Homo sapiens: one gene and its partners. The protein of the gene in region 1 purifies or fractionates together with the protein of each later gene. This does not show direct contact. Each region holds a gene or a part of one and is shown in the gene's direction. Other genes may lie near its edges.

Region 1 (5,700 bases):
TAATACATCTGTCATCATTCCTCTACTCTTCTCCCATTCCAGTCTTACCTGCGTGCTGTCCGCTGAATCACGCTTTTACCATATTCCTCTCCTCAAAAATGTTTTTCTAAATAACTATTTGATCAAGTGCCTACTCTACCCTGACACTCATGACTTTCTGTAATCTAGTTTTTTATTTCTTAGTTTATTCTTGAAGCTACTAAGATGGTGCTAGATAAATAATATATACTTAAATCAAGCTCCTAAGTAAAGATTAGGGTCGCTGCCTGAGTTTTATATTAATTCCTATAACATATTATGACTTTATTTTATATGTCACTATAATATAGTTCTGTATAGGGCATTCACCCTCTAAGAATGATGGCAGAACATAATAGAAGTCAGATGAAGAATTCCAGATGTATGTACTATGAAACCCTTCCTTATAGTTACATATTTTTATACATGTACAAGTTACATTTTTTTTCCCATGCTTCTCCTACTCCAGAATCTTACCTTATATTGAATCAGATAGTCTTTTGTTAGGAGACCTAAATGAATAAGAAAAAGAAAGCCAAGAAGTGGTTTGGGTTTGAATGGAGAAAATTTGAAGGAGGGGGTCTTAACAGGTCTCTAGGGACACTGAGAACTTTGAAGAGCCATCACCAGGTCGAGGAATTTTAGAATATAACATAGTGGTATAAATCAGTTCCTTGGTTGCCTGGAAAGGAGGGAGAAGGATACAAAGGAGTGTGAGGACACTTTCTAGGGGGGCAGAAATGTTCTCTTTCTTGATTGGGGTGGTGGTTAACACAGACATATATATATATATATGCACACACTTTGGTAAAAAGTTAGCAAATGTACGCTTAAAGTCTGCATTTTATGTTGAATTACACCTCAAAGTTGATTTTATTTTTTTAGAGTAGTGAAGAACATGATGAAAGCTGGAAAAATTCTTGACAAAATACTACATAAATTATTTCAAAGAGAAACATCTGTGTTAAGTTGCTTTCATCTTTTCTTTGCCATGAATTTATCAGAAAAACATACTTTTAAAGGTTTTTTTCTGAATTTTAGCCAATTGGTAGCTATCTTTAGACAAGGAGTAACCTTGAATTTACATTTTTAGCTATTTGGGCAAAAAACATTTAAGCACTGTATTTTAATATTGCTAACCTGATTTAGAGAATTAATACTTTTAAATTGGTGGTTTAATTTTTTAAACCATTTAAACAAAAATGTCTTTATTATGTTTTCAGAATTGGTTTTATACCCTGGAATGTTGAAACAGAAGTCCTTCCTCTCATTTCTTCTGTGTTGCCAAGAACTATTTTTCCAACAAGTACCATATCTTTCGAACATTTTGGTAAAGTTTGTGAAATCATTTTCTATTTTAAAAATTATTATTATTAGTTTCTTCCAGTTTCATAAAAATGTGTGTTTGATGACTTAGAAAAGCTGTAAAGTAAGGCATAGTAACTTGTAAATACGTCTATAAATATTTGGACAATGACTTAACTTTAGAATTGCTTCAACTAGAGTGTATGTATATATAGATAGATAGATACATAGTCTCTCCATATATCTATATACACACACAATGGAATATTATTCTGCCACAAAAAGAAGGAAATCTTGTTTGTGCCAACGTGGATGAACCTGGAGGACATTAGGCTAAGTGAATAAGGCAGGCACAGAAAGGCACATAACCACATGATCTCACTTATATGTGGAATCTAAAAAAGTTGATCTCGTAGAACTAGATTGTAGATTAGGGGGTGGGGTAGGTGTGGTGGGGTGGAGGTTGTTGGTCAGAGGATACAGTTTCAGCTGGATAGAATAAGTTCTAAAGATCAATTGTGAAACGTGATGACTATAATAATACAGTTGACCCTTGAACAACATAGGTTTTAACTGGGTGGCGACATTATACATGAATTTTAAAAAATAAATATATCGGAAAATGTTTGGAGATTTGCAACACTGAAAAAACAGAAAAATCGCATAACCTATAAATAGTGAAAAAAATTAAGAAAAAGGTATGTCATTAATGTATAAAATATATGTAGGTACTAGTCTATTTCATCATTTACTACCATAAAATATATACAAATCTATGATAACAAGTTAAAATTTATCAAAACATATACACACTCAAACCACATGGTTCCACCATTTGCAGTCATAAGAAATGTAAACAGCTGTAAAGATACAGTATTAAATCATAGCTGTGTAAAATTAAATATAGTACGTATTTACCAGTGTAACAATTTTTGTGGCCGCCACCTGTTGCTATTCTGGTGTACTCAAGTGTTGTGAATGTCTGGGAGGTTGAGGCTACAATGAGCCATGATTGCACCACTGCACTCCAGCCTGTGCAACAGAACAACAGCCTGTCTCAAAAAAAAAAAAAAACAAAAAAAAAACAAAACACAACGCAAAACCTGGTTTAATGTAATCATCTCCATGTGAGCATTTGTCTTTCTAATAGATTGCATATCACAGTAAAAAGTGATCTCTTGCAGTGCATGCATATTTTTCATAGTGTTTAGTGCAATACTGTAAACCTTGAGTAACACCTTTGGGACCCACATAAGTGCCATTAGTGATGTAGGAAGTGCTCCCAAGAAGCAAAATTATGGCTTTATAAGAAGAAGTTTAATTCCTTGATAGGAACAGATTGAGATCTATAGCTGCAGTTGCCTGCCATTTCAGACAGATGATTCATCTTGTAAACAAATGATATAAACTTAGGGTATCAATAAATACAGTACAGCATTATAATGTATTTTCTCTTATGATTTTTGTAATAACCTTTTCTTTAGCTTCTTTTATTGTAAGAATACAGTATGTAACACATAACATAAAAAATATATTAATTCACTGTTATCAGTAAGGAGTCTGGTGAATAACAGTTAAGTTTTGGGGAGTAAAAACTGTTTCAATTTTTGACTGTGTTGGGGGTTGGTGCTCCTAATCCCTGTGTTGTTAAAGGGTCGACTATATTGTATTTTTGAAAATTGCTAGAGAGTGGACGTAAAGTGTTCTCACTAAACAAATTATAACTATGTGAGGTAGTGCATATATTAAGTAGCTAGATTTGGTCATTCCACAATGTATATGTACTTCAAAACATCATGTTGTACATGAGAAACACAGTTTTATCTGTTAGTCAGTTTTAAAAATAAAAAATATTCCAACTAGAAACTCTGTTGTAGTTTTTGAAATTACAACTTGGAGGCTTTGAGGAACTGATTAGAAGTCTCCTTTCTGTTTCAGGCTTTCATATCCAAACCATAGATCTTTAGAAGTAACATCTGTTAATTAATTATTAATAAATAGTTTGAGTCTTTATTAATTCATGGATAACTTGACCATTTTCTCTCTCCTTTTGCTTAGATAATCCCAGATCATGGCCGGGCACAGTAGCTCACGCCTGTATTCCCAGCAGTTTGGGAGGCCGAGGCAGGCAGATCACTTGAACTCAGGAGTTTGAGACCAGCTTGGGCAACATGGCAAAACCCTGTCTCTATTAAAAATACAAAAATTAGCTGGGCATGGTAGTGCATGCCTGTAGTCCCAGCTACCTGGGAGGCTGAGGTGGGAGGATCGCTTGAGCCTGGGAGGTTGAGGCTTCTGTGCGCGATGATTGCTCCAGTGATCACGCCATTGCACTCCAGCCTGGGTGACAGAGTGAGACCCTGTCTCCAAAAAAAAAAAAAATTAAGCAAGTAGCAGTTACAAGACCAAAAGTTATTTTCCTTTTTTTTTTTCTCTATAAAATTGCCCATTTGGACCAAATCTAGTTATAACTTATTTCAGTGTCATTAAGAAAGTTGATGAATAAGTCATATTACTCAGATGTTAGTAGCTATGCATTTATTAATAGTTTTATTTATAAGTATTTAGTTTCACTCTGTTGCAGACTATTTTATGCTAAAATTAGCTAAAGCCAAATTACTATTTCTTAAAACATATTTTTTACTTTTTTTTTTTTTTTAAATATTATTAGGTACTTCTTGCAAGGGATATGCATTAGCACATACTCAAGAAGGGGAAGAAAAGAAGCAAACTTCTGGTACATCAAATACCAGAGGATCAAGACGAAAACCTGCAATGACAACTCCTACAAGGAGGTCTACACGTAACACAAGAGCTGAAACAGCCAGTCAGTCTCAGAGATCCCCAATATCAGACAATTCTGGGTGTGATGCCCCAGGTAACAGTAATCCATCTTTAAGTGTTCCCTCTTCAGCTGAGTCAGAAAAGCAAACAAGACAGGCTCCAAAACGGAAGTCTGTAAGAAGAGGAAGAAAACCACCTTTACTGAAAAAGAAACTTCGGAGCTCTGTAGCTGCCCCTGAAAAATCATCTTCCAATGATTCAGTAGATGAAGAAACAGCAGAATCTGACACATCACCTGTGTTAGAAAAAGAGCACCAACCAGATGTAGACAGTAGTAACATTTGTACTGTGCAGACTCATGTAGAAAACCAGTCTGCTAATTGCTTGAAAAGTTGCAATGAGCAAATAGAAGAAAGTGAGAAGCATACTGCAAATTATGATACAGAGGAAAGAGTAGGATCTTCATCTTCTGAGTCTTGTGCTCAAGATCTTCCTGTGCTAGTTGGTGAGGAAGGGGAAGTTAAAAAACTCGAGAATACAGGTATAGAGGCTAATGTTTTGTGTTTGGAAAGTGAGATTTCTGAAAATATTCTTGAAAAAGGAGGTGATCCATTGGAAAAGCAAGACCAGATATCTGGACTTTCACAATCAGAGGTAAAGACAGATGTATGTACAGTTCATCTTCCAAATGATTTTCCTACATGTTTAACATCTGAAAGCAAAGTGTACCAACCTGTATCTTGTCCCCTAAGTGACTTATCTGAGAATGTAGAGTCAGTGGTTAATGAAGAAAAAATAACAGAGAGTTCCCTAGTAGAAATTACTGAACATAAAGATTTTACACTAAAAACAGAGGAGCTTATAGAGAGCCCCAAGTTAGAATCTTCTGAGGGTGAAATTATACAGACAGTGGACAGACAATCTGTTAAGAGCCCAGAGGTTCAATTGCTTGGGCATGTTGAAACTGAAGATGTAGAAATAATTGCAACATGTGATACTTTTGGGAATGAAGATTTCAATAATATTCAAGACTCTGAAAATAACTTACTAAAAAATAATCTTCTGAACACCAAATTGGAAAAATCTTTAGAAGAAAAGAATGAATCGCTGACCGAACATCCTAGATCTACAGAGTTGCCTAAAACACACATTGAACAGATTCAGAAGCATTTTAGTGAGGACAACAATGAAATGATACCTATGGAGTGTGATTCATTTTGCAGTGACCAAAATGAATCTGAAGTTGAACCATCTGTAAATGCTGATCTTAAACAAATGAATGAAAATTCTGTGACACACTGTTCTGAAAATAATATGCCGTCTTCTGATCTTGCGGATGAAAAGGTTGAAACTGTTTCTCAACCATCTGAAAGCCCAAAAGATACCATAGATAAAACCAAAAAGCCTCGTACTCGAAGATCTAGATTTCATTCTCCATCTACAACTTGGTCACCCAACAAAGACACTCCACAAGAAAAGAAGCGGCCCCAGTCTCCATCTCCCAGAAGAGAAACTGGGAAAGAAAGCAGGAAGTCTCAATCACCATCTCCTAAGAATGAGTCAGCCAGAGGCCGGAAAAAATCCCGTTCTCAG
Region 2 (6,454 bases), on another chromosome or scaffold:
CACCTGTAGTCCCAGCGACTCGGGAGGCTGAGGCATGAGAAATGCTTGAGCCCAGGAGGTGGAGGTTGCAGTGAGCAAAGATCACACCATTGCACTCCAGCCGGGGTGACAGAGGGAAACTCTGTCTCAAAAAATGGAAGAAAAAAAGGAAAGAAAACTAAGATCAGCTTTCCAGATTCCTACCTCTCAGCTCACCCAGGTCAAAAATAAAAAATGCTCAGACCTAGACTTCACAGACAGGAAGTCTGCCAAGTCCCACTGGTGGCCTAGTTACAGTTTTCCTGGCCCAGCTCTGCCCACTGCACAAGTAACGGCACTGGGGTGGCACCTGGCAGTCTGTGGAGGAAGAGAGGCTGGGTGTAAAGAGGCCATGTAGGCAGTTGTAGAGTGAGAGGAGACAGGAATCTCTGCCTCTCTGCCACTTGGCAATAGGAACATCTCCCAAGTTTTTTCAATTTTTTTTTTTTTTTTTTTTGAGACGGAGTCTCACTCTGTCGCCCAGGCTGGAGTCCAGTGGTGCTATCTTGGCTCACTGCAAGCTCCGCTTGGGTTCACGCCATTCTCCTGCCTCAGCCTCCCGAGTAGCTGGGACTACAGGCGCCGGCCACCACGCCCGGCTAATTGTCTTTTGTATTTACTTAGTAGAGTGGGTTTCACATGTTAGCCAGGATGGTCTAGATATCCTGACTTCGTGATAAGCCCGCCTCAGCCTCCCAAAGTGCTGGGATTACAGGCGTGAGCCACCGCGCCCGGCCAGCTTTCTCTTTTCCTTTTTTTTTTTTGAGACGGAGTCTCGCTCTGCGCTCTGTCGCACAGGCTGGAGTGCAGTGGCGCCATCTCAGCTCACTGCAACCTCCGCCTCCCGGGTGCAAGCAATTCTCTGCCTCAGCCTCCCAAGTGGCTGGGATTACACGCGCCCGCTACCACGCCCGGCTAATTTTTGTATTTTCTACTAGAGACGAGGTTTCACCATCTTGGCCAAGCTGGTCTTGAACTCGTGACCTCGTGATCCACCCGCCTGGGCCTCCCAAAGTGCTGGGATTACAGGCGTGAGCCACCGCGCCCGGCCTCAATTCTTAACCTAGCTATCAATTGCAGTGTTAAAGAAAAACGCCTCAGTCCTAATGCACTTGGTCAAGAAAACACTGCACTACTGCAAAATGATCAAAGCAGCATTAAACTGTGGACTGCTGGATAAGTGCGGAGCTCTAGAGATGATGAAGGGGAGAGCATCTCTGCTCAGTAAAAGCTTTCATGGGCAGCGACTGAAAGAATGAGGCCCAGAGGAATTTCTAGGAACTTTCCAAGAGAGGAAATTCAAACCCGAGAACTCCCAAGAGGTGTCTCCCACACCCCTGTTCTCTGACCCTGCCATGGCCACCCTCCCCCGTCACAGGTCTCTGCGTGCCATGCACCTAGAGTCCACTTCGTCGCGACTCTCCAACACCTATTTTCTCCAGGAGCTGCTTCGGACCCGTTTGTTTTTTTTGTTTCGTTTTGTTTTGTTTTTCTGACAGCGACAGCCCTTGGGCAACGCTAATCATTCCAAGCAAATTCTGTCATGCCAAGACCTCCCTTAACAGCACGCGCCCACTTGTTTCCAACTCTCCTGCGAATTGGGCTTCGGGAGCCTCCGAAACCAAGGCTCGGAGATGTGGAGCGCACAGGGGAAGGGTCGAGCTGGGACCCACACCCGGCTCTTCCTCCCACACCGCCTGTTGAGCCCAAGGCTCAATTTCAACACAAAGCTCTCCTTCCCTCAATTCCTTCAACGACGGGTAACCTTCAACGAACACCTACCGGACCAGAACAGAGTGTACGAGCGGCGCGGGAAGGTGGCACAAAGGCATGGCCCAGAGGAGTGGCAGGAAGACTCAGCCGGGGCCCTCCACTCCCCAGCCTGCCCGGCCTGGGCAGAGCCGCCGGGCCGCCCGAGTCCTGGGGCTCGCGGAGGAACGGAGATGGCCTCCGCAGGGGCTCGCGGAAGCCCCCAGGGCGTCGGACCGTCTCACGCGCGCGTCCCGCGCCACTCACCTGTGGGACCCATAGCGTCGCCCGCTTCAGAGGTGGAAGCCGCCATTCCGCCACCGCGCCAAAACGTCGTCATCAAGCTGCGCGCAGAGCCACGCCCCGCGGCCGGGCGGGAAAAGCGCTTCTACCTCTTTGGGCCGTTACCTCAAAAGGTACGTGCGCAAAGCGAAGAAGGCCGGCCGGCCGGCCAGGGAGGGGAAATGGCGAGGCAGGAGTGCGGGGGGAGGGAGTGGTCCTTAGCTGAATGCGCCTGCGTTGTGGCGGCCTCTGGCGCCCCAAGGTAGGGCTCACGCACTTTCTCCCTAGCAAGGAATGCGCGTGCGCGTAAGCAGGGTTGTTGATTAGTGCCCCCCACCCCCCCCGAAGAGCGACCCCTAGTGGTGCACCGGTGCGGACCAGAAAATTGCACGCTTTCTTGAAACAGGTATTGACTGAGCGCCCAATGTATGCCTGGCACTGGGCTGGGTGCTGCCACCTAAGCGAGCACGACCAATGCAAGTCTATCAGGGACGCCCTGACCGCCAAGCAGCTGGCCCCTGCAGTCCGCCATGCCACTCCCGACGCCTAGCGCGCCGCTCAGCACACCGTGAGCGCCCACTAACTGTTGGGCTCCAATGACGCCGAGGAGGCGGCCCCGTCCCCGCGCTCCCGCCGCTCCCGCCAGGGCAGCCCGGGAGGCCAGACGCTGGCGCTGCAGGGAGAGGGCGGTGGGCGCATCCGCTAGGGGGCGCGGCGGGGCGGGGCGCACCTTTCGGCGGGCCTCGCGGATGGCGGCGCAGGGCGTAGGGCCTGGGCCGGGGTCGGCGGCGCCCCCGGGGCTGGAGGCGGCCCGGCAGAAGCTGGCGCTGCGGCGCAAGAAGGTGCTGAGCACCGAGGAGATGGAGCTGTACGAGCTGGCTCAGGCGGCGGGCGGCGGTATCGACCCCGACGTGTTCAAGTGAGCGGGGCGGGTGGGGGCCGCATGCTCGCCAGACACCCCCGACCTCTGCTCTCCGGGTACGCCCGGCCCGCTGGTCGGGAGGAGCCCCCGCTGCCCCCGCCCCCGTCCTTGTCCGGTCTTCAGGGAGGTGGCCGCGCCGGGCGGAGAGGGCTCACCGGCCCCGCGTCTGTCCCCGCCAGGATCCTGGTGGACCTGCTGAAGCTGAACGTGGCCCCCCTCGCCGTCTTCCAGATGCTCAAGTCCATGTGTGCCGGGCAGAGGCTAGCGAGCGAGCCCCAGGACCCTGCGGCCGTGTCTCTGCCCACGTCGAGCGTGCCCGAGACCCGAGGTCAGAGCTGGGCCCGCTGTCCCTGCCCCAGTGGCGGGGGTGGCGGGCGGGGAGGGGGCAGGCGCGGCACAGCGGCGGCGTGGCCCTGAGTGGCCAGGCCTGTCTGTCGGTCGGTCTAGGCCCAGCACCTGCAGGGCCCATCCGTGGGCTCTGCTCCTGGGCTTCGCTGCCAGCCTTAGGAGGCACGTCCAGGTCAGGTGGACGCAGAGTGCGTGCCCCAGGGTGGTCCAGGCTGGGTAGGGCTCCTCCGCTTAGCTCCTCCCCACCTCTTCACTCAGGCCTTCATCCTACAAAGTCGGGAATCAAGACGGTTTGGGGCTGGGCGCCGTGGCTCACGCCTATAATCTTTGGGACCCCACGGCGGGAGGATCCTTTGAGGCCATGAGTTTGAGACCAGTCTGGGTGACAGGGTGAGATCCTGTCTCTAAATGTTTTTCAAAAGACAGTCTCGATCTCTGTCCTGTGGTATACAGCATCCAGGGAAGTGCCCAGGGAGCAGGGCAGGCAGACGTCTTCCTGCCTTTACCCCACCTGGGCCCAGTTCCTGCCTCTGATGATTGCAGGAAGAGAGTTAGACGCGGAACTCCCAGGGTGCAGAGGCCTGCGGGGTCTGAAGGGCCTCCTCCCTCTCCAGTGTGGTGACTGGGCTGAGGAGATGCTGGGACTGAGAGTGTCATGGTGGAGCCTCCGTCCCTGCTCATCCTCTCCGCATGTTGCTTCTGCTCCCGATGGCTCTCTCTGAAATGCAGCACAACCTCCCAGGCCAATGGAAGGAGGCCCAGAGCTGGCTCCCTGCCTGGAAGCAGGAGGAGACCCTCACAGGCATCATGAGAAGGCGTGGAAAGCAGGCTGCCTTCATGGGGGAAGTGCCAGGGCCTGGGCACCCACGCCCGCTGACCCAAGAGGGCCCGGGCACCTGCGTGCTGGCCTCTTCACTGACCCTCGCTCTGTCTGCTCTCTTTGTGTCTCTCTCTGACCTCCAGAGGCCTCCTTTCTCTCTGCCAGGAACAGTAGCCCCCCTGCAAGGCCCTCGTTTTCCTCCAGCCCGCAGCCTGCGGCCTCTCTGGTTATGCTCCACAGCCCAGCTGCCACACACTCACCTCTCTCTCCAGGCCCCCCGGGTTCCCTCCGCCTCTCTTGCTGCCTGTTCTCTCCTTTTGCAGGTTGCGTTTATTGGCTTATCTCTGGGGGTTGGTGCTCTTCCTTGTTTTCATGGAAACTGCATGGCCCCAAGAGGCCCAAGCAGCTTTGAGCTGCAAGGGCAGGATCATGCAGGCCACCGCTGCCCTGCCGCTTAGCCACAGGGCACTATTTCTGACTCGGTTTATTAGAGACATGGTGTGGCAGTCTCTAGACCCCACAGTCGGGCTGGCATCCGGGGACAGGACCAACATCCCCACACCCCAGAGGCGAACTAGTGGTGAGTGTAAAGAGCCCCTCTCCAGGGGAAGACAGCCAGCCGGGTGCAGTGTGCTCTGCTGGAGAGCACAGCCCCAGGCGTGACAAACGCCTCGGCCTCTTAGAAGTTGTCCCCTACCTGGACAGGAAGTCTGGAGGCTGAAACAGAGACTCCCACCTTCCCAGAGTCTGCCAGGCAGTGCCACACAGATGCCATGTGCTGGTCCCATGGCCACACTCCAGCACTCAGCCCCCTTGCCCGCCTCACTCCTGAGTTGGGACACTTTCCAGGTGTCACCAGGTGTGATCAGGGGCCTGTGAGAGCCCAGGGGTCTTTGGTCGCGCCTCCTGCATGAGCCTCCTGACAGCGGCCACCTCACTGCCACCCAGAGCTCAGGCCCAAGAGAGGGTGGAGAGGGCCTGAAGGACAGGCCTGGAGTAGGGGTGTATGGACTGCAGGCTGAGATGAGCAATTGAGGGGCAAGTGTCCAGCAGGAGGGAGAAACTGGGAACAGAGTTCTTGTCACTCCAGGAGATGTTGCTGCTCACTTAGCACTCACTCAGGGCTCTGGGTGCCAGGCCTAGCTCTCAGGGCAGAGGGCGTGGCAGGGAAGTGAGATGATCACACTCAGTCCAGTGAGAGGCAGTGAGGAAAACCACCAGTGAGACCAGTGTGCTGGCTCACACCTGTAATCCCAGCACTTCGGGAAGTCAAGGCAGGTGGATTCCTTGAGCTCAGGAGTTCAAGATCAGCCTGGGCAACATAGCAAGACCCCATCTCTACAAAAAATACAAAAACTAGCCAGGCAGGGCCCGGCGCGGTGGCTCACGCCTGTAATCCCAGCACTTTGGGAGGCTGAGGCGGGCGGATCTCGAGCTCAGGAGATCGAGACCATCCTGGCTAACACGGTGAAACCCCATCTCTACTAAAAATACAAAAAAAAAATTAGCCAGGCATGGTGGCAGGTGCCTTTAGTCCCAGCTACTTGGGAGGCTGAGGCAGGAGAATGGCGTGAACCTGGGAGGTGGAGCTTACAGTGAGCCAAGATTGCGCCACTGCACTCCAGCCTGGGTGACAGAGCGAGACTCCATCTCAAAAAAAAAAAAAACTAGCCAGGTGGGCGTGGTGGTGGCGCCCATCTGTATTCCCAGCTACTTGGGAGGCTGAGGTGGGAGGATTGCCTGAGCCTGAGGGGGATGTTGCAGTGAGCCAAGAGCTTGTGACTGGACTCCAGCCTGGGCAACAGAGCAAGACCCTGTCTCAAAAAAAAAAAAAGAAAAGAAAGGAAAAGAAAAACCACTAGCAATGGAGTTGGGAGGAGGCTTCAGAGCCCAGAGAGCAGCAAGGGTTACACAGGGTGGAGCAGGAAGGGTCAGCAGAGCCCCACACGTGTGAGCTGGGGCAGTGGGAGGGCATGGGAGAGGCAGAGCGCTGTCCAGGTGCTGGTAGGCCCAGGGCAGGAGGAGGCAGGTGGGGGGGCACAGTCAAGATGTATGTGGGGGTTGTGGCACTGGAAATGCAGGCATAGAGGGGCCAGGAGGATTAGGGGGTGCCATGTGAGCGAATGGGGGCTCCAAGAGAATTTACCCGAGGACAGGAGTGGCCTGGAGTGCTGGGCCCCTCAGGGTCATTTGTTTCTCGAGGGCTGTGTCCTGGAAGCATAGCCCAGGTCCTGTAGGCTGGGTGGCAGAAAGCCACGACATGAGGGCACCGAGGCCCCATGGGGATAGAGTGGAACCTGAGGAGGAGGTGGAGG
Region 3 (5,700 bases), on another chromosome or scaffold:
CCCACGCACAGCCAAAACCTTTCTTTAAAAGGCATATATTCGTATGATTTTTTAACGTAAAACGTAACAAAAAGTATATAAGGAGACCTTAAGCCTTTCCTAACTCTCCTCTCATTCCTTTTAGTTTCTCTTCTCAAAAATAATCACATAGGGCTGGGTGCAGTGGCTCACACCTGTAATCCCAGCACTTTGGGAGGCCGAGGCAGGCCTGAGGTCGGGAGTTCGAGACCAGCCTGACCAACATGGAGAAACCCTGTCTCTACTAAAAATACAAAATTAGCTGGGCGTGGTGGTGCATGCCTGTAATGCCAACTACTCGGGAGGCTGAGGCAGGAGAATCGCTTGAACCCGGGAGGTGGAGGTTGTGGTGAGCCAAGATTGTGCCATTGCACTCCAGCCTGGGCAACGAGTGAAACTCCGTCTCAAAAAAAAAAAAAAAATCACATAAACCCTTGATAATGTCTTCATGCATCTGAGCTCTTGCAGGTGCCGTCTTCTGTCCCTTAGCTTCAAGAGTTTCCATCTCTGGCCAGGCACGGTGGCTCACGCCTGTAATCCCAGCACTTTGGGAAGCCAAGGCGGGCAGATCACGAGGTCAGGAGTTCGAGACCAGCCTGACCAACATGGTGAAACCCCATCTCTACTAAAAATACAAAATTAGCCTACAAAATTAGCCAGGCGTGGTGGTGGGTGCATGTAATCCCAGCTACTCAGGAGGCTGAGGCCGGAGAATCACTTGAACCCAGGAGGCAGAGGTTGCAATGAGCCAAGATCGCACCACCGCACTCCACCCTGGGCAAAAGAGCGAGATTCCATATCAAAAAAAAAAAAAAAAAGAGTTTTCATCTCTCTCCTGCCTGTTTCTCTCTCTTAGCCCAGGCAGAAGGGGATGAGGAGGAAGAAGGGGAGGAGGAGAGTTCGCTGATAGAGATCGCAGAGGAAGCTGACCTGATTCAAGCAGACCGGGTGATTGAGGAGGAAGAGGTGGTGAGGCCCCAGCGGCGGAAGAAGGAAGAGAGTGGAGCAGACCAGGAGTTGGCTAAAATGCTTCTGGCCATGAGGCTAGACCATTGTGGCACTGGGACAGCAGCTGGACAGGAGCAAGCCACAGGAGAGTGGCAGGTAAACTCACTTCCTTGGGTTGAAACAGGCCTGAGAGTGTTCTGACCGCTTGTTTTCCCCCACTTCTGATACAGTATATTCACTTCACCATTACAATTAGCTAAGTACCTGTATTACAGCCTACCCCTGGTATGAGATGGCTTTAGTGATTCCCAAGGATATAAATACGATGGTTCTTCAGAGGGCCTCTGGCAAGAAATGCCAACTTAGAAAGACAGGAAGCAGGTAGCCAAGTGCTTCTGTAGAACTTGTGGAAGAATGTAGCACATATGAGTCAGGTCAAACACGGTCTCAGTACTTAATGCCTTCAGGAGTGTTGTTTTCTCTATTTCAAATGAGTTTGTGAACATGTACTAAGATTTTAGAGGATTAAAGTAAGCAATGAAGCGAGACCTCCAGGCTGGATGGAATATTCCTCCTTCATTCAGCCTGGAATTTGACACTTCTCTTAAAGCCAGAATTGTATGAATGCCCAGGTGTCTTCATGTAGCCTTCCCTCTGCTCCTTTTGGTGGAGCCTAGTAGTCCTCACTGTTTACCATGCATAACTATGATGATCGAGGATTAGATATTCAAAATAAGAATTTGTAAACCTTACCAATGATTTGAGAACTTTCAAGGGCAACTTTGGATGCAGTTTTCATCTGAGTGCTGGCTTTGCACCTGATCTAGTTCAGTTCAGTATCACTATATGTGGTGAGCGGAGTCATGATCTCAATTCTTAGAAGCACAGATTCAGCATCTCTCCCAGGAGGCATCAGGAAAGGTTGATTTGTTTCATTTTGAAGCAGCGGGAAGATCTTTATTTAGTGACATCTGTCTGACTTGCGAGCCTTCTAAAGGCTCATAGCCTCAGACTCAGTGACGGCCAGAAGAGAGCACTTTCTCATAAACAGTGCTTTCCACCACTTGTTAAAGGTACTGTGTTGATACGATGGCAGTAGGACCGTTTTAGCAGGCACTGTGCCAAGTCCTGTGTGAAGCACCAGTTGCTAGGCACTGGTTGTACAGCATTCAACAAGAAAGTACCACCCCCATGACTTTCATGGCATGCATTTTAGGAACAAGAAACAGGCTATGGTCAAAGATGTTTAATGATAACTAGTGCTAGTACTAGTATAAATGCTTTCCACGTATTTACTCCTGACAAGCCAACAATCCTATAAAGAGATACCATTATTATTCCCATTTTATAGAAGGTGATACTGAGGGACACAGAGGTTAGGTCATTTACCTTACTAGGTCCCACAACCTAGTAAGAGGTAGAGTAGGGCTTTGAAGCCAGGCAAACTGGCTCCAGAGTCCTTGTTTAGCCACTCTACAGTGGAAGAGCTGTTGGGAGAATGTAAGACACTTGACATTAATCAGTGATGCCAGCCCTTTTTCTTACGTGCTGTGACCCCTGCCTTGGGCTTAAAACCAAGCCTGCCTCTGCTCAGACAGTACCCTGCCTGGTATTGATGTCTGCAGACCCAGCGCAACCAGAAAAAGAAAATGAAAAAAAGAGTGAAGGATGAGCTTCGCAAACTGAACACCATGACTGCAGCCGAGGCCAACGAGATCGAGGATGTTTGGCAGCTGGACCTCAGTTCTCGCTGGCAGCTTTATAGGTACTGTGTTCCACATCTAGCCAACCCATGTAGGGAGTTCCTCTTCTGTTCCTAGAACATTCTCCACCTCCAAGACCTTCAACGATGTTAACTAATTATTGATTGAGCACCACCACTGAGCTGAGTGATAGGGATACAGCCATGGGATAGAATAGACACTTTGCTCTACTTTCATGGAGCTTATAGAGTCTATCCAGGGTAACAAATTAATTATTACCTTCGTGGAGCCTATGGAGTCTATCCAGGGTAACAAATTAATCACGTAATTCCACAAATAAAAAGTTACAAATGGGTATAAAAACTCAGAAAAGAACAGAGAGGTAACAGGCACAATGACTCACACCTGTAATCTCACCACTTTGGGAGGCTGAGGCTAGAGGATCTCTTGAGGCCCAGGGTTCAAGACCAGCCTGGGCAACATAGTGAGACCTCATCTCTACAGGAAAAAAAAAAAAGAGTAGGAGAGGCCGGGCGCAGTAGCTCACGCCTTTAATGCTAGCACTTCGGGAGGCCGAGACAGGCGGATCACAAGGTCAGGAGATTGAGACCATCCTGGCTAACACAGTGAAACCCCGTCTCTACTAAAAACACAAAAAATTAGCTGGGCGTGGTGGCCGGTGCCTATAATCCCAGCTACTCGGGAGGCTGAGGCAGGAGAATCGCTTGAACCCGGAGGTGGAGGTTGTAGTGAGCCAAGATCACGCCATTGCACTCCAGCCTGGGTGACAGAGCAAGACTCCGTCTTTTAAAAAAAAAAAAAAAAAAGTAGTAGAAAGCCGTTGGAAAGTTTTACAGCGATTAGTGACATCATCAGTTTTACTAATAAAATAAATACTCTATGGAGAATTAGAGGAGGGGAGGGAAATTAGGCAGGGATGCTGCAGCTGGGAGAATTCTTCCCAAAGTTTTTAAAGTCTCTTATTTTCTTCCCATAGTTAACCTTTGTTCTTTATCTCACCCCTTTCCTTAGCTCCTGACTACTCTGCACATCTTTTTGTTGGGCATTTTGGATTCTTAGGTCCCTGAATGTATCTCTCTGTTTGTCACTATGCTCCAAGGGTCCAAGGTTCACTTCATACACTGGGCACACTGAAGGGCGTTCTTCCACCTTCTCAAAGAGCATGTGGCTTTCTTTCCTTGGTTCTTCCCATTCTCCAGGCTCTGGCTACAGTTGTACCAGGCTGACACCCGCCGGAAGATCCTCAGCTATGAACGCCAGTACCGCACATCAGCAGAAAGAATGGCCGAGCTGAGACTCCAGGAAGACCTGCACATTCTTAAAGATGCCCAGGTTGTAGGAATGACAACCACAGGTAAGAAACTGTGGAGAAATTTGCCTGTTGCATCTAAGTTCACTTCTGGTGCCAGATTATCTAAGGACAGGTAAAGAGGAGCTTCTTTGGTAGGTTAGAGGAAAATACCATGAAAAGCTACTGAAAGCACCCATATTTTGAGAACTCTTGGTGAAATTCACTCACTTTCGCCAGGCGCAGTGGCTCACGCCTATAATCCCAACACTTTGGGAGGCCAAGGCAGGTGGATCACCTGAGGTCATAAGTTTGCAATCAGCCTGGCCAACATGGTGAAATCTCATCTCTACTAAAAATACAAAAATTAGCTGGGTGTAGTGGTGGGTGCCTGTAATCCTGGCTACTCGGGAGGCTGGGGCACAAGAATCACTTGAACCTGGGAGGTGGAGGTTGCAGTCAGCTGAGATCGCACCACTGCACTCCAGCCTGGGTGACAGAGTGAGACTGTCTCAAAGAAAAAAAAAAAAAGAAAAAAGAAATTCACTCACTTTCTCCTGCTGGGTTTGAAACTCCAACAGTGACCAACACAGTTTTAATGTTCTGGAGACCACCCAGAACACTATAAGGACCAGCTGTCGCTGATGCAGGTTCAGGGAAGATACAGAAGTGGATTCCCAGAGGCCCAGTGGCCCTGTGGGTCCTGTGCCTCAGCTCAGAGGAGCCTTTCTCTTCTTTCCTCACTTGAGGTGCTGCCAAATACCGCCAGATCCTACAGAAGGTGGAGCCGAGGATTGTCATAGTGGAAGAAGCTGCGGAAGTCCTTGAGGCCCATACCATTGCCACATTGAGCAAAGCTTGCCAGCACCTCATTTTGATTGGGGACCACCAGCAGGTAAAACGAGAGTCCCCCTAGAAGATGGGCTGGCTCTCCGTGGGGGTGAGATCATAAAGGAAGACCCTGGCCTCTGCTTCAACAGTCCTCAAGCTTATTAGTAGCTTCTTGTGATTCCTCTTGTCTTCACCTCCCACGTTCAGTCTAAGAGCAGATGCTATTAGATTTGGGGTATATTTTAGTGGCAACGTCATTTATTTCATCCATTCCCTCTGCTATTTACCTAGTCCACCATGGCCTCTTGAGTGGACTGTATTGTAATAGCATGCTCCTCAGTCTCTCTGCTTCCATTTTTGCTACCTTTTAATGCACTCTACATAAAGGAGCCAAAGTGAATTTTTTTAAAAAAAAGGTAGATAGATAATATCACTTTCCAGCTGAAAACCCTCCAGTGGTGTCCCATTGCACTTGCATAAAAATCAAGCTTCTTAAAGTGGCCCACAAAGGCTTATGTGATCAGGTTTCAGCTTATTTCTCTGACTTCATCCCATTTGCTCTTGGTGTCCCACTGTGTCCTTTCCGCTCCCCATTATGGATCTTGCTTTTCAAATGACTGAAGAACTGGCAACTTCTGCCATGCTAGTGTCTACTCAGATGTCACTGTTCAGAGGCCTAGCTAGAAAAAACCCACCATGGGGCACTCTGTCATATCACCTTTAGTTCTACTAATCCTTAACCCTTGTCATTATTAATCCTTAAACTGTGAGTATGTAGAATAGTGCCTGGCACATAGTCAACACTTGAAAAACATTTGATGGTTGGTTGGATGGATGGAAGTATGGATGGTTAAATGACTTTATCAGTAGAGAATCCTCAGCCATGTTTCT
Region 4 (5,700 bases), on another chromosome or scaffold:
TGGAGGAGCCAGGCAGCGCAGCCTCCTTTGACTGTTGCTGCTGCAGCAGGGGCTGTCGGGTGGGGTGATGTGGTGAGGTGTAGGTTTTAGATGGGCTGTGGAGGTGGGCATGGTGGGAGCTGCACGGGGCGGGGAGAGCTTCTAGGCAGAGGCTCAGCCCCGGGGGACTTGAGAGCTAGAGATGGTGGAGAAGGGGTCAGAGCAGGGGACGCTGAGAAGGGCTGGACTGTGGTTCTTGTTCATCTGGCAGGCATAGCCAGGCGGCTCCTGGGGTGGGTGGACTGAGATTGGTCCAGGGTGCCCCTGTCTTAGTGTGACCTGCAGGGCCTGCTGCTGTGGCGTTGCCCAGGATGCTGGTGCCACTGAGACAGCTGTGGTCGGAGCAGCTGCAGCCCTCACAGCACTAGTGTCTGTGCACAGAGCACGGCCGCCATTTCCCCCCCAGCCCCTTTGCCATGCCCCTGGGGCAGCTGGGCTCAGATGAGAGGAAGGGTTGGTGGTGGGCGCCCCTGGGGCAGCTGGGCTCAGATGAGAGGAAGGGTTGGTGGTGGGCGCCCCTGGGGCAGCTGGGCTCAGATGAGAGGAAGGGTTGGTGGTGGGCCACAGCTTCTGGCTTCTTGTGGATGGGCCGCATTTCCACCTGGCCCGGTGGCGGGGTGTGGCTCACAGAGGCCCATTGCTTGGAAATGGAGCCCAGAGCTGAGGCAAGAAACAAAGCGCTGTTCCCAGCACTGGTGCCCCTCAGGCCCTGGGCACGGCTGCGTCCATGTGCCTGGCCGCCCTCCTCCCAGCCTCTTTGCCCACAGGCCTTCACCAGTGGCCTGAGGAGGTACCTGCAGTATTACCGGGCCTGCGTCCTTTCCACTCCGCCCACCCTGAGCCTCCTCACCATTGGTTTTCTCTTCAAGAAACTTGGCCGGCAGCTCAGGTGAGCCTCAGCATGGCGGCTGAGCAGGGGACTTTGCGGGAGCGGTGTGGGGCTTGCTGGGTGGTGGAGGGTTTGCCCTGCTCCCTGGCAAGGAGGGCCTGTGAGAACAGCCCTCAGCAGGCGACCGGATGGCCCTTGGCCGGCCGAGTTCACCAGGTGCCCGGTGCTGAGCGGGTGTGTCTGCCGTGGGCCCACCACAGCTGGCCCCATCCAGGCCCTCCAGGTCCGGTGGCTCCTGCCTAATTGGCACACAGGGTCCCTGGAGATGTGGCGTCCGGTACACACAAGCTGGTTAGTGAGCAACCAGGCTCGGGGGCTATTGGCAGGTGCCATCAGAGAAGGAAGAGTGAGGAGCTGGGCATTGGGAGCAGTGGGAGAGGCGACCTTCCAGGCTGAGGAGCAGAGTGTGGCAGCGCTGAGGAGACCCAAGGGCTGAGACACTGTGGGGCAGGGGAGCTGGGCTGTGAAGGGTGCGAGTTGTGGCAGATGCTTGGTACCACTGTGTGGATGGGAGGGGCTCTCAGGTGCAGCCCCCAGAAGTGGGAGGATCAGGGTGATTCGTGTGTTGGCCAGATCCTGGGAGGGAGGGCCTGCTGGGTGTGGGTACTTCAGTGGGGTGTGTGTGGACAGCGCAGGGGCACAGGGCTGCACACGAGTCCTGCAGGGAGCCCGTTTCTGGGTGGTTGGGGTGCCTGTGGTTTTTAAAGCCTGCATCTAAAGTTAGTTGCCCCAGGGAGCATAAAGATACGTGGAGACTTTGCTCACGATCTGATCCAGGCCTGGGAACCCTGAGCCCGGTCACCTGGTCTCATCCTGCCTCTGGGTCTAGGTACCTGGCCGAGCTCTGTGGCGTTGGCGCTGTGCTCCCGGGCACCTGTGGAGGAGGCCCCAGGGCCGCGTTTCCCACCGTGAGTTGTGCGTCCCTGCCGAGTGTGTCAGCCTGGTGGGCTCCAGGAAACGGGGGTGGCTGAGCGTGTCCCTGGAGGGCTGCTGCCGGCAGGGCTGCGCCTCACTCCCAGCGCTGGGTGCGCTGAGCTGCCCCCCACCCCCTTTGCGGTCTGCAGGGCGTGAAGCTGCTGTCCTACCTCTACCAGGAGGCTCTGCACAACTGCAGCAACGAGCACTACCCTGTACTGCTGTCCCTGCTGAAGACCAGCTGCGAGCCCTACACCCGGTGGGCAGTGGGCTGGGCAGGCGCGGCGGGCGCGCACTCCCACCAGGCAGACACTTGAGAGCGGTCCCTTGTCAGACACCTGCTGAATGTGGGGGTCACACAGGAAGGGGAGGGCAGGATAGGTGGACTGGGCAGGAGCCCCCAACCCCCCACCCTGCCCCCACTCCACACCCCCCACCCTGCCCCCACTCCATCCCGCCCCTCATGGATGGCCACACCCCACTCCACCTCTCACAGCTACGCCCCCACTTGCCCCTCACTGACAGCCACGCCCCTGTCCCACCCCTCACTGACAGCCACGCCCCACCCACCTCTCCGTTGACCACATCTACCCCTGCTTTTCCCCCACTGCAGGTTCATCCACGACTGGGTGTACAGCGGGGTGTTCAGAGACGCTTATGGCGAGTTCATGATTCAGGTGAACCACGAGTACCTCAGCTTCCGAGGTAGGTGGCAGCTGATTGCGGGGCAGGGGTCCGTGCCTGTGGGCCTGGGTTCAGGGCCATGGCCATGCCGGCCACCGTGGTGTTCACCCTACCTTAGATAAGTTGTACTGGACACATGGCTACGTGCTCATCTCCAAAGAGGTGGAGGACTGTGTTCCCGTGTTTCTGAAGCACATTGCCCACGACATATACGTCTGCGGAAAGACCATTAACCTGCTGAAGCTCTGCTGCCCCCGGGTGAGGAGGGGCTCATGTGTGGGGAAGAGAGGGGCCGGTCTTCCCTGGGGCTGAGTATGAGGCTGGGGCTGAGTGCTGGTGGCTGTGCTTGCATCCCCTTTGGCAGCATTACCTCTGTTGGTCCGACGTCCCTGTCCCCCGGATCTCGGTGATTTTCTCCCTTGAGGAGTTGAAGGAGATTGAGAAGGACTGTGCCGTCTACGTTGGGCGCATGGAGAGGGTGGCCCGCCACAGCTCTGTCAGCAAGGAGGAGAAGGTGCGTGGCACCACAGGTCTCGGGGGCTTTCTTCGCCCCTGCCTCTGCTTCCTGGGGTCTCAGGTTGGTGGGGCGGACATGAGGGCTGTGCAAGATGGGGGCCTCCCTTCTGGCATTTTCTGTCCTGGCGGTGGCCTGGGTGGGTGCCAAGGGGGAGTTGAGATGAAGGGTGGGTGTCAACGGGGAGTTGAGATGAAGGGTGGGTGCCAAGGGGGAGCTGAGATGAATGTCCGGAGCCAGATGCCAGGCAGGGGCTCTGACTTCTCCTCCTGGGTCTGGGTGGCTCAGCCTGAAGCCCAGGCTTTGCTGGCGTGGGAAACTCCGTTGGGGCCTCCCCGGGCCCGCCAGCTGTGGACAGACAGTCCTGGCTGCACTCCAGATGGCCTTCGCCCTTTGCAAGCCCCCTTCCTGCTGGGAAGGGACAGTGTGTCAGGGACGGGCCACGCCTCTCCTGTGTCTTCTGGGAGGGGCTCGGTGGTACAATCAGTGCCATTCCCAGGAACACCCTTTCTGGCCTGGTGCCTGGTGGGCAGCAGGGATACTTGGGCAGGGGCAGGCCTAAGAGGCTGAGCGGGGAAGCCCCCTCTTGAGGCCTCTTGGTTTCCTTCCAGGGTGGGCACACACAGCCTTGGGGTCCTCAGCCCCAGATGTCTCTGTGAGAGCCGGTCAGCTCCCGTCCATGGCCTGGAACCAGCCTTGCCACTGCTGAGAGCCTGGGGGTGGGGGAGGGTGGGCGGGGGGGCGGTGTCCTGCCATCACCTGGTCCCTCCTCGAACCCTTGGACCATGTGTCTCCCCTGCCGGCCCTGAGTCCACAGGTGTCCTGGGCATCCTAGGTGAGGGGTCAGAGGATTAGGTTGCTTTTTTTTTCTTTGAGACAGGGTCTCACTGTGTCAGCCAGGAGGCTGGAGTGCAGCGGCTCGAACATGGCTCACTGCAGCCTCCACCTCCCAGGCTCAAGGGATCCTCCTGCCTAAGCTCCCCTGACCCCCGCCAAATAGTTGATACTACAGGCACCTGCCACTACACCTGGCTAATTTTTGTATTTTTAGTAGGGATGGGTTTTTGCTATGTTGTCCAGGCTGGTCTTGAACTCTTAAGCTCATGTGATCTACCCACCTCGGCCTCCCAAAGTGCCAGGATTACAGGCGTGAGCCACTGCGCCCGGCCAGGATGCTTTGATTACCAGTTGTCTTTCTCAGGAATTACGTATGGAAATTGCAAAACAAGAATTAATCGCTCATGCCCGGGAAGCAGCATCCAGGGTCCTGAGTGCACTGAGTGGTGAGTGGCCCCAAGTCCTCCCTTCTGCAGTTCCGGGGGGCCTTGCTGGGGCCTCCTTGTGACAGTGCGCCCCTTACTGTCCCAATGTAGACCGGCAGATGTCAGAACGGATGGCCTTGGATGCCCGGAAGCGTGAGCAGTTTCAGAGGCTGAAAGAACAATTTGTGAAGGACCAGGAGGTGGGTAGGACCTGTCCCTGCGGGGTCACGCCTGTCAGTTCTGATTTCACAGGCCAGGCTCTATGTGTTTTATAGCGACGCCAGGCGGCCAGGCAGGAGGAGCTGGATGATGACTTCAGCTACGCCCGTGAACTCCGAGACAGGGAGAGAAGGCTGAAGTCCCTGGAGGAGGAGCTGGAGAGGAAGGCGAGGTAGGGCAGCCCGGGCTCCAGGCCCAGGGGTGCAGTGCGGCAGGGGCCCCATAGCTCTGGCTTAATCTTACTGATGATTTTACTTTTTGTTTTGAAAACCTTCAAACATACATTAAGGTAGAAAGACCAATATGCTGAACCCAGAGTGGCTGTGGGCGTTCTGCCTTATCCAGGCATCCTTAGCTGTTCTGCGCGTTGTCTTGTGGTGGTTTGTATGGATTAGGGTCCAGGCGAGGCCTGCGTACTGTTTGGGGTCCTGTCTCTTTATTTATCTTCTTTCTGAACATCCTTCCTTATTTATTTTTAAGTCTGTTATTGGTCTGACAGAGACAGGGCGTTTTTTTTTTTTTTTTTTTTTTTGGAAACAGAGTCTTGCTCTGTCACCCAGGCTGGAGTGCAGTGGCACAATCTCGGCTCACTGTAACCTCCGCCTCCCAGGTTCAAGCAATTCTCCTGCCTCAGCCTCCTGAGTAGCTGGGGTTACAGGCATCCGCCACCACATCCAGCTAGTTTTTTGTATTTTTAGTACAGACGGGGTTTAACCATGTTGGCCAGGCTGGTCTCAAACTCCTGACCTCAGGTGATCCACCTGCCTCGGCCTCCCAAAGTGCTGGGATTACAGGCGCGAGCCACCGCGCTCGGCTGAGACAGGGCATTTGTCCAGCACAGCATCTGCGTCTGTCTCCCTGTGCTGTTATCAACCTGTCCTGTGCTGTCATCAGGCTGTCCCAGGCTGAGTAGTGCTGGATCCTTCAAGGGGCTGTTTGGGGTTTTGGAGAGAGCCCCTCACGGGAGGGGCTGGCCGCTTCCTGCTCAGCCCCACGCGATGCTGTAGGTCCCAACCTTAGATCTCTTTATGGAGCGAGTGAGGGATGTGTGTGGAGGGGTGCGCGTGCCTGTGTGCACGTGTGTCCGTGTATGCATTTATGCATGAGTACGTGTTCATGCATGTATGTCAGTCGATACTGTCCTGTTAACACATGGAGAAAACCAGGCCTAGACACTA
Region 5 (5,700 bases), on another chromosome or scaffold:
TGAGTTTGGACGTCTCTTTCTAAAAGCTTAGTTCTCCACACAACTGAAGAGGGAGTGGTCCTAGTGAACCATGTAATGAGGATGTTTATTTAGTCTCTAATGAAAATGACTCAATCATGTTTAAAAATCAGTGGGAAACAAATGCATTAAAAGGAAGAGAATGACAATGCTATGGTAAAGGGATAATCCATAGTAGAGGTTCTAGGAAGGCAGAAGAGAATGGGCTCTAAAAGACAGTTAAAAGATAAACTCAGATATGTGTAGTGGTATTTCTTATATTGTAACTTTATTCGTAAAGGAAGATGGGTCATGGAAGTACATTTGCATTCATGGTAGTAGAAAAATGATGGTTCCCAACTGATAATTATTTTCTCCACACGATTGAAAGAGAGAAAGGAGGACGGAGACTAGAGGATTTAGGAGAGTAGGCAAAAGCTTAAAACAGGCATTGTAGAGTGAACTGAACAGAAAAATACAGGATGGCTAGGAAGAATGGGGGTCCACTTGAGGTTAATTATGATGAATTTATAGTAGACAGAATGTTACAAGTATTTGCTGTTGGCATATGACAATGAAGAACTCAGAGTGTTTTTTTCATTCAGGACTACGGTTTCCTCACCAGAGGGGCAGGAGTTTAAGAAATTGGCAGATGTTATCATGTATCTAAACTGCATAAAAAGAGGAACATTAAGTGTAGGAGTCAGTGGATTGGTGGTCCTAATGAAGTCAAAGATGGTTGTGGTGGGTGGAGTTGAACAAGCAAGCTGATAGAGGTTGTGATCACAGTGTGGAATATTTGAATTAATGGTTTTAGAAATTGAATATTATGAGTGATGACAAGGTTGACAGTGTGGCCATGGAAGTGGATGGCTGAGATAGAATAGATTAGGTCTTTAGAAAATAAGTAAAGAAGTGAAGATATAATTATCAGATGGGCTATTCAAGTGGACATGCAAGTTACACAGAATGATGGCAGAACTTAGGGTGTAAAGAAATTGTAAGTTGGTTGCTAATATCTTCAGTGAATAAGGGAGTGAATGACATGAAGGGTAAGAGAAGATATTAATTAAATGGAAGAGCCTTAAAGAAACAGGATGATGTTGATAATGTTATTTTGGCAAGAAGAATTTGAGGAATTTTTTGTGCCAGGCACTCTTGCAGGGCAAAGAAAACACTATATAAATATTACAAGACTCCTGTTTTCTAGGAGCTTGCTGTCTATAGAAAAAGACAGCCACATGAGCCATTAGTAACAGTGCAGTGAGGTAGATGCTTTAATGACAGAATCTGTATAGTGGGGACCCCAGGGATGGAGTGGTTATCCTTAACTGAAGAAGTCATTGAAGGTATCACTGGAATGACTATATCTGAACCTGAATTTTATATAGTTCCTAAAGTGAAGAAGGGGAAGAAGGACATTCCAGGAGTAATTTTTAAGATGTATGCCTCGTAACTGATAGATGAAATATAAACTCCGTAATTACATGCCATTGCACTGAAAGCTGTTATAATGTGTATTTTTTTTATAACTATAATTTCCATTTTTTGGCCTATAGCTCTGCTTTTTGTTCTTAGAGTTAAACATTGTTCTCCAGTAGGGTGATTTAAATTATGTATTTGTATGTGTGTGCATGTGTGTGTGGGGGGGGGGCATGTATGTTTACATGCACATATGCTTGCACACAATGCCCTTGTGTTTGTGGATCTTCTTTTAAAATTATACTTGAAATAATTTGTTACTAAAAATAATGAAAGATTTGTTTTATAAATATGTAAAATAAATTGCTAATTAAAAGCTAATTTGCTAATTAAAATAGTCATTCAACAAATTAAATTCCTACCATTATGAGTGAGGCTTTGTTTTAACGGTGGGAATACAAAGATGAATATGACAGGCTGTGATTTCAGGGAACTCACTGTTTATTATATTCCAAGCCCAGCAAGATATAAGTGTAACATTAAAATACTTATCTCGGGTAATACTGTGACTTTTTAAAAAATTATAACTTGTTTTTCTTAAGCTCTCAGACACATTTTTAGACTGTTGATTTATTCCTTCACTATTTATGGAAGAGGTTTGATTTCATCAAGCTACGAATATAGTTAGACAATAAAAGTAGTTAAAGTGGTAGACTAAGTCTCAAATATTAAGACTCAAAATAAAGTGTGTTTGTTCCTGAAGTAAGTGCCTTTCTTCTAATTATTGCTTTATTCTTCAAAGGTTGTGAAGATGAGAAAAGAAGTGAAGAGAATTCGAGTTTTAGTTATCCGAAAACTTGTCAGGAGTGTTGGCCGACTGAAGTCAAAAAAGTTAGTCATTTAAAGTAATGATCTTGTGACTAATAAAATGTCAAAAGTTGTTTTTATTTGATACTTTAAAATGTTTAGGGTGGGATATAGAGAAGTAATTAAATGTCTTATACACCATTTTTGTTTTGTATGCGGAGATGATGTGAGTGAGATAGAATGTGCTGTGTCAGCATGCCCTTCTATGGTTTGGACCATCATTGCTCAAGATACAGGATGAATTTTTTTGCTGCTTTTGCAAAACTCTCTTTTGGTCTTTTTAGAATGAAATTCCCTTGGGCTTGTGTGTTTTGTGTTATCAGAAGTTATTTTAAGATACTGATACAGCTTAACAAATCTAGTAATACCTTAAGAATCAGTTTTGAAGATTTTATATCACATTTTTTCTTGAATTGCTAAGTAATTTGAAATCTTCAGTACCTTATGAAAGTGTTTATTAGAACATTGTGTTCCATGTAATTTTTTGGAAAAATACAATATTTTGTATTTTCAGTATCACTAGTGTTAGTGAAAAAGTATTTTATTTATAGTTCTTTTTATGATGTAAGCATGAATACTTAGTCTTCAAGTATGTTTTGTTCCTGATTAATTTCCTATTCTTTCATAAATATGTCAGAATATAGCCCTTCTTTATTTTTTCCTTAAATGCCAGAGAGCAAATTTTCATTTGATAAAATTATAGTCAAACTCTAATTGTAAATTATGACATTTATATTACATTAAATACAATGTACGATTGATTGATTTAAAAAAGTGTTATTAAGGAACTAGAGAAGGCAAACTATCAAAAGTAATAGTCATTAATACAATGGCAAGACAGTACTTATTTTTGCCATTTTCCAACATATGGGTTTGGTTAGTAAATTGAGGTGTGTTTTGGGAGTGGGGGAAATGGACAGTGTAGGATAGTGGCGTGTTTGTTATTTAGAGATTTATTACGCTTTTCTAAAAAGAAATGAAGTGATTATCCATTACACTATAAGTCTAAAATTAATGCTTTGCCTGGCTACATATCGTAATGTATTTTTTGCAGGGGTACTGAAGATGCACTGTTAAAAAACCAAAGACGGGCGCAAAGATTGCTTGAAGAAATCCATGCCATGAAGGTAAGGACTTGTGTGGGTGTGTATGTGTGTATGTTTCTGAGTATCCTGTTATCCTGCATTTTGTTTGTGTGTGGTATTGCTTATTTGAATATTCCCGAGAGTTGCGTAAGACATCTTGTATCAGTCTGTTTGGTGAAGAATGTAGCACATTTAGAAAATTGTAACATTTAAGCTTGCATTTTTCTGTTTTTGACTGAATTTGTTAAAGTGCTAGGCTAATTTGAGTCAAAATTGTGCCAAACTAAATTCATCTATGTTTAATAATGCCTCCTGCCTCAGGTTTTTATTTTTACTGTAACTTTAGCACGAAGTCAGTTCAAGAATTAAAGTCTTCATGCTATTTGGGAATGTGGATGGTGATATTGGTGGCTGACATCATGCTTTCCTTGTTGCCAGCTCAATAAATTTTTATGTATTGGTATCGGCATTTTATTCAGTTCTGTAGTAACTTCAAATAAAATTAGTGTTAGACCAATGTGATCCCATATTTTTGTTTTTTTTTTCAGTCAGACTCTTCACTAGCATAATTTTTAGGTCTTCTTGCTGCTCTTACTTTGAGGAAACTTTCATTTACCAAATGACATGACATTAAATGTCTGGGAGACTGTTTTACTGTAGAACTTAAAAACAACATTTGGTCCCAGCAATTTTCTTAATTGCAGGGTCATTTTGCATGCATGTTTGCCTATTATATTTTGGTATAACTTTCAAGTTTTGAATTAAGTAAAAGAGAAATAAAACTCTCTAACTATTTTAATTGAGTTAAGTTATCAAAGATTCTCAGCCTTTCTTCCTTTTAAACGGATAGTAAAGTGTTTAATAGGACAAAGTTATCCCAGTTAATCTGAATAAAAACATCTAGGAAACGACTCTTTGATATGAAGTATATTTGTTTCTTGTGTTCTTCCTTCCCTCTGCTGCACACTATTATAAAATTCATGGAATCCATCTGATATAACTTTTATTTCTCAAGGTTATAATTCCCTTTTTATTCAGTCCTTCAGGAAAAAAAAGTCTTCTGTATTTGACTGTCAGTGATCATTTGTGTCTCTGTGGTTTGCAGATTATTTAGTTTTTTCATATACCTTTTTAAAATGATATTCCTATGAGAAATAAAATCTTTAGAGATTTTGTCTTGAGAATAGCAATAAAATAGGAAGTTACAATTTATCTCTTTCACTTTCTCTTAACCAAGGTTCTTACTAAATTACATTGCCTACCTAAATTTTTCCCTGTAATTTCTTCTGAATAGTCATTTTTGTAGTCTTAAATTATTCAGAGGCTTTGAGCTACTATATAATTGCTGATTTTATTTTACCATGGAAAGAATGCAGTGTGTGTGTGTATGCATGTATATATATATATAATATATATATGTGCATACACATACACATACAATGTATAGTTGGCTACTCTGACTTTAACTTCTTTTGTAATACTGTTTAAAAACTGGAGTAAACTGGAATTTGTTAAATTTTTTATATATATAAAAAATATATACATACACACACACTACATTCTTTCCATGGTTTGTTATATATAATAACTTGTATGTGGTGTATGAAGAGTTTGAGAACAAAAGATACTCAATCTTTAGAATACTTCCCTTTTGTAAATTTCAGTGATACATTTGATTAATTAGAAAGAAAAGTTGTCCTTTTTGATCTAAATGTAAAGCCTGTTTTCTGTTTCTTGTTTTGAATCTCATCAGCAAAGGGAAATCTGATTCAGTGATAAAGTTTGTAGGTTTACAAGATTACCACATCACTATCGTGGTTTGGTTTGGTTTGGTTTGGTTTGATTTGTGTTCTATTTTTCCCTGTGATTGCGCAATGGAATGGTTGCATCATAGAAAGCCAAATTCATAGCCTATGTATTCCTTAAATTCATAAAATTCATAGTATATATATGTCTTGAGTTTGTGGCAGGAGTTAGGGCAGGCTGGGTTGGCTACTCTGACTTCAACTTCTTTTGTAATGCTTTTTAAAAACTGGAATGAATTTAAATATAAAATGAATACTAGAAAGACTATATATTTGCTGTTCTTACGTGTCAAATTTTATTCCTTATTTATGGTTCTTTTACAAATTTTGTTGTCTTTTCTAAACAAAGCAAATAAATAAAGCATTTTTCTTAATTAAAAGGTCATTTGTAATTTTCTTAGGAAATGGTTATTACCTACTTGGGAGTATCAAATAAATGATGACAAAACAAACTCTCAATCTCAATTAAATTTGGAGAAAAGACCTCTGCTCATTTATTTTTCCAGAGAAATTTTTTCCTTGGC

The links.
Region 2: the proteins of SCAF11 (region 1) and MZT2A purify together in Homo sapiens (affinity purification with mass spectrometry; one large-scale study listed by BioGRID and IntAct). This does not show direct contact.
Region 3: the proteins of SCAF11 (region 1) and ZNFX1 purify together in Homo sapiens (affinity purification with mass spectrometry; one large-scale study listed by BioGRID and IntAct). This does not show direct contact.
Region 4: the proteins of SCAF11 (region 1) and TUBGCP6 purify together in Homo sapiens (affinity purification with mass spectrometry; one large-scale study listed by BioGRID and IntAct). This does not show direct contact.
Region 5: the proteins of SCAF11 (region 1) and SRFBP1 purify together in Homo sapiens (co-immunoprecipitation; one large-scale study listed by IntAct). This does not show direct contact.

Annotation. Positions count from the first base shown.
Region 1 is NC_000012.12:45,927,154-45,932,853, reverse strand, and holds part of SCAF11 (protein SCAF11), read left to right. Parts: intron 1-1,241; coding exon 1,242-1,348; intron 1,349-3,994; coding exon 3,995-5,700. UniProt on the Homo sapiens protein: Plays a role in pre-mRNA alternative splicing by regulating spliceosome assembly.
Region 2 is NC_000002.12:131,488,721-131,495,174, reverse strand, and holds the start of MZT2A (mitotic-spindle organizing protein 2A), read left to right. Parts: upstream 1-2,777; 5' UTR 2,778-2,798; coding exon 2,799-2,968; intron 2,969-3,150; coding exon 3,151-3,299; intron 3,300-3,938; exon of another isoform or gene 3,939-4,015; intron 4,016-4,282; coding exon of another isoform or gene 4,283-4,462; intron 4,463-6,454. UniProt on the Homo sapiens protein: Required for the recruitment and the assembly of the gamma-tubulin ring complex (gTuRC) at the centrosome.
Region 3 is NC_000020.11:49,252,839-49,258,538, reverse strand, and holds part of ZNFX1 (NFX1-type zinc finger-containing protein 1), read left to right. Parts: intron 1-874; coding exon 875-1,122; intron 1,123-2,591; coding exon 2,592-2,731; intron 2,732-3,889; coding exon 3,890-4,044; intron 4,045-4,727; coding exon 4,728-4,873; intron 4,874-5,700.
Region 4 is NC_000022.11:50,223,135-50,228,834, reverse strand, and holds part of TUBGCP6 (gamma-tubulin complex component 6), read left to right. Parts: intron 1-806; coding exon 807-928; intron 929-1,757; coding exon 1,758-1,836; intron 1,837-1,992; coding exon 1,993-2,102; intron 2,103-2,456; coding exon 2,457-2,548; intron 2,549-2,645; coding exon 2,646-2,785; intron 2,786-2,891; coding exon 2,892-3,041; intron 3,042-4,242; coding exon 4,243-4,324; intron 4,325-4,414; coding exon 4,415-4,503; intron 4,504-4,578; coding exon 4,579-4,694; intron 4,695-5,700. UniProt on the Homo sapiens protein: Component of the gamma-tubulin ring complex (gTuRC) which mediates microtubule nucleation.
Region 5 is NC_000005.10:121,971,975-121,977,674, forward strand, and holds part of SRFBP1 (serum response factor-binding protein 1), read left to right. Parts: intron 1-2,221; coding exon 2,222-2,310; intron 2,311-3,340; coding exon 3,341-3,413; intron 3,414-5,700. UniProt on the Homo sapiens protein: May be involved in regulating transcriptional activation of cardiac genes during the aging process. May play a role in biosynthesis and/or processing of SLC2A4 in adipose cells.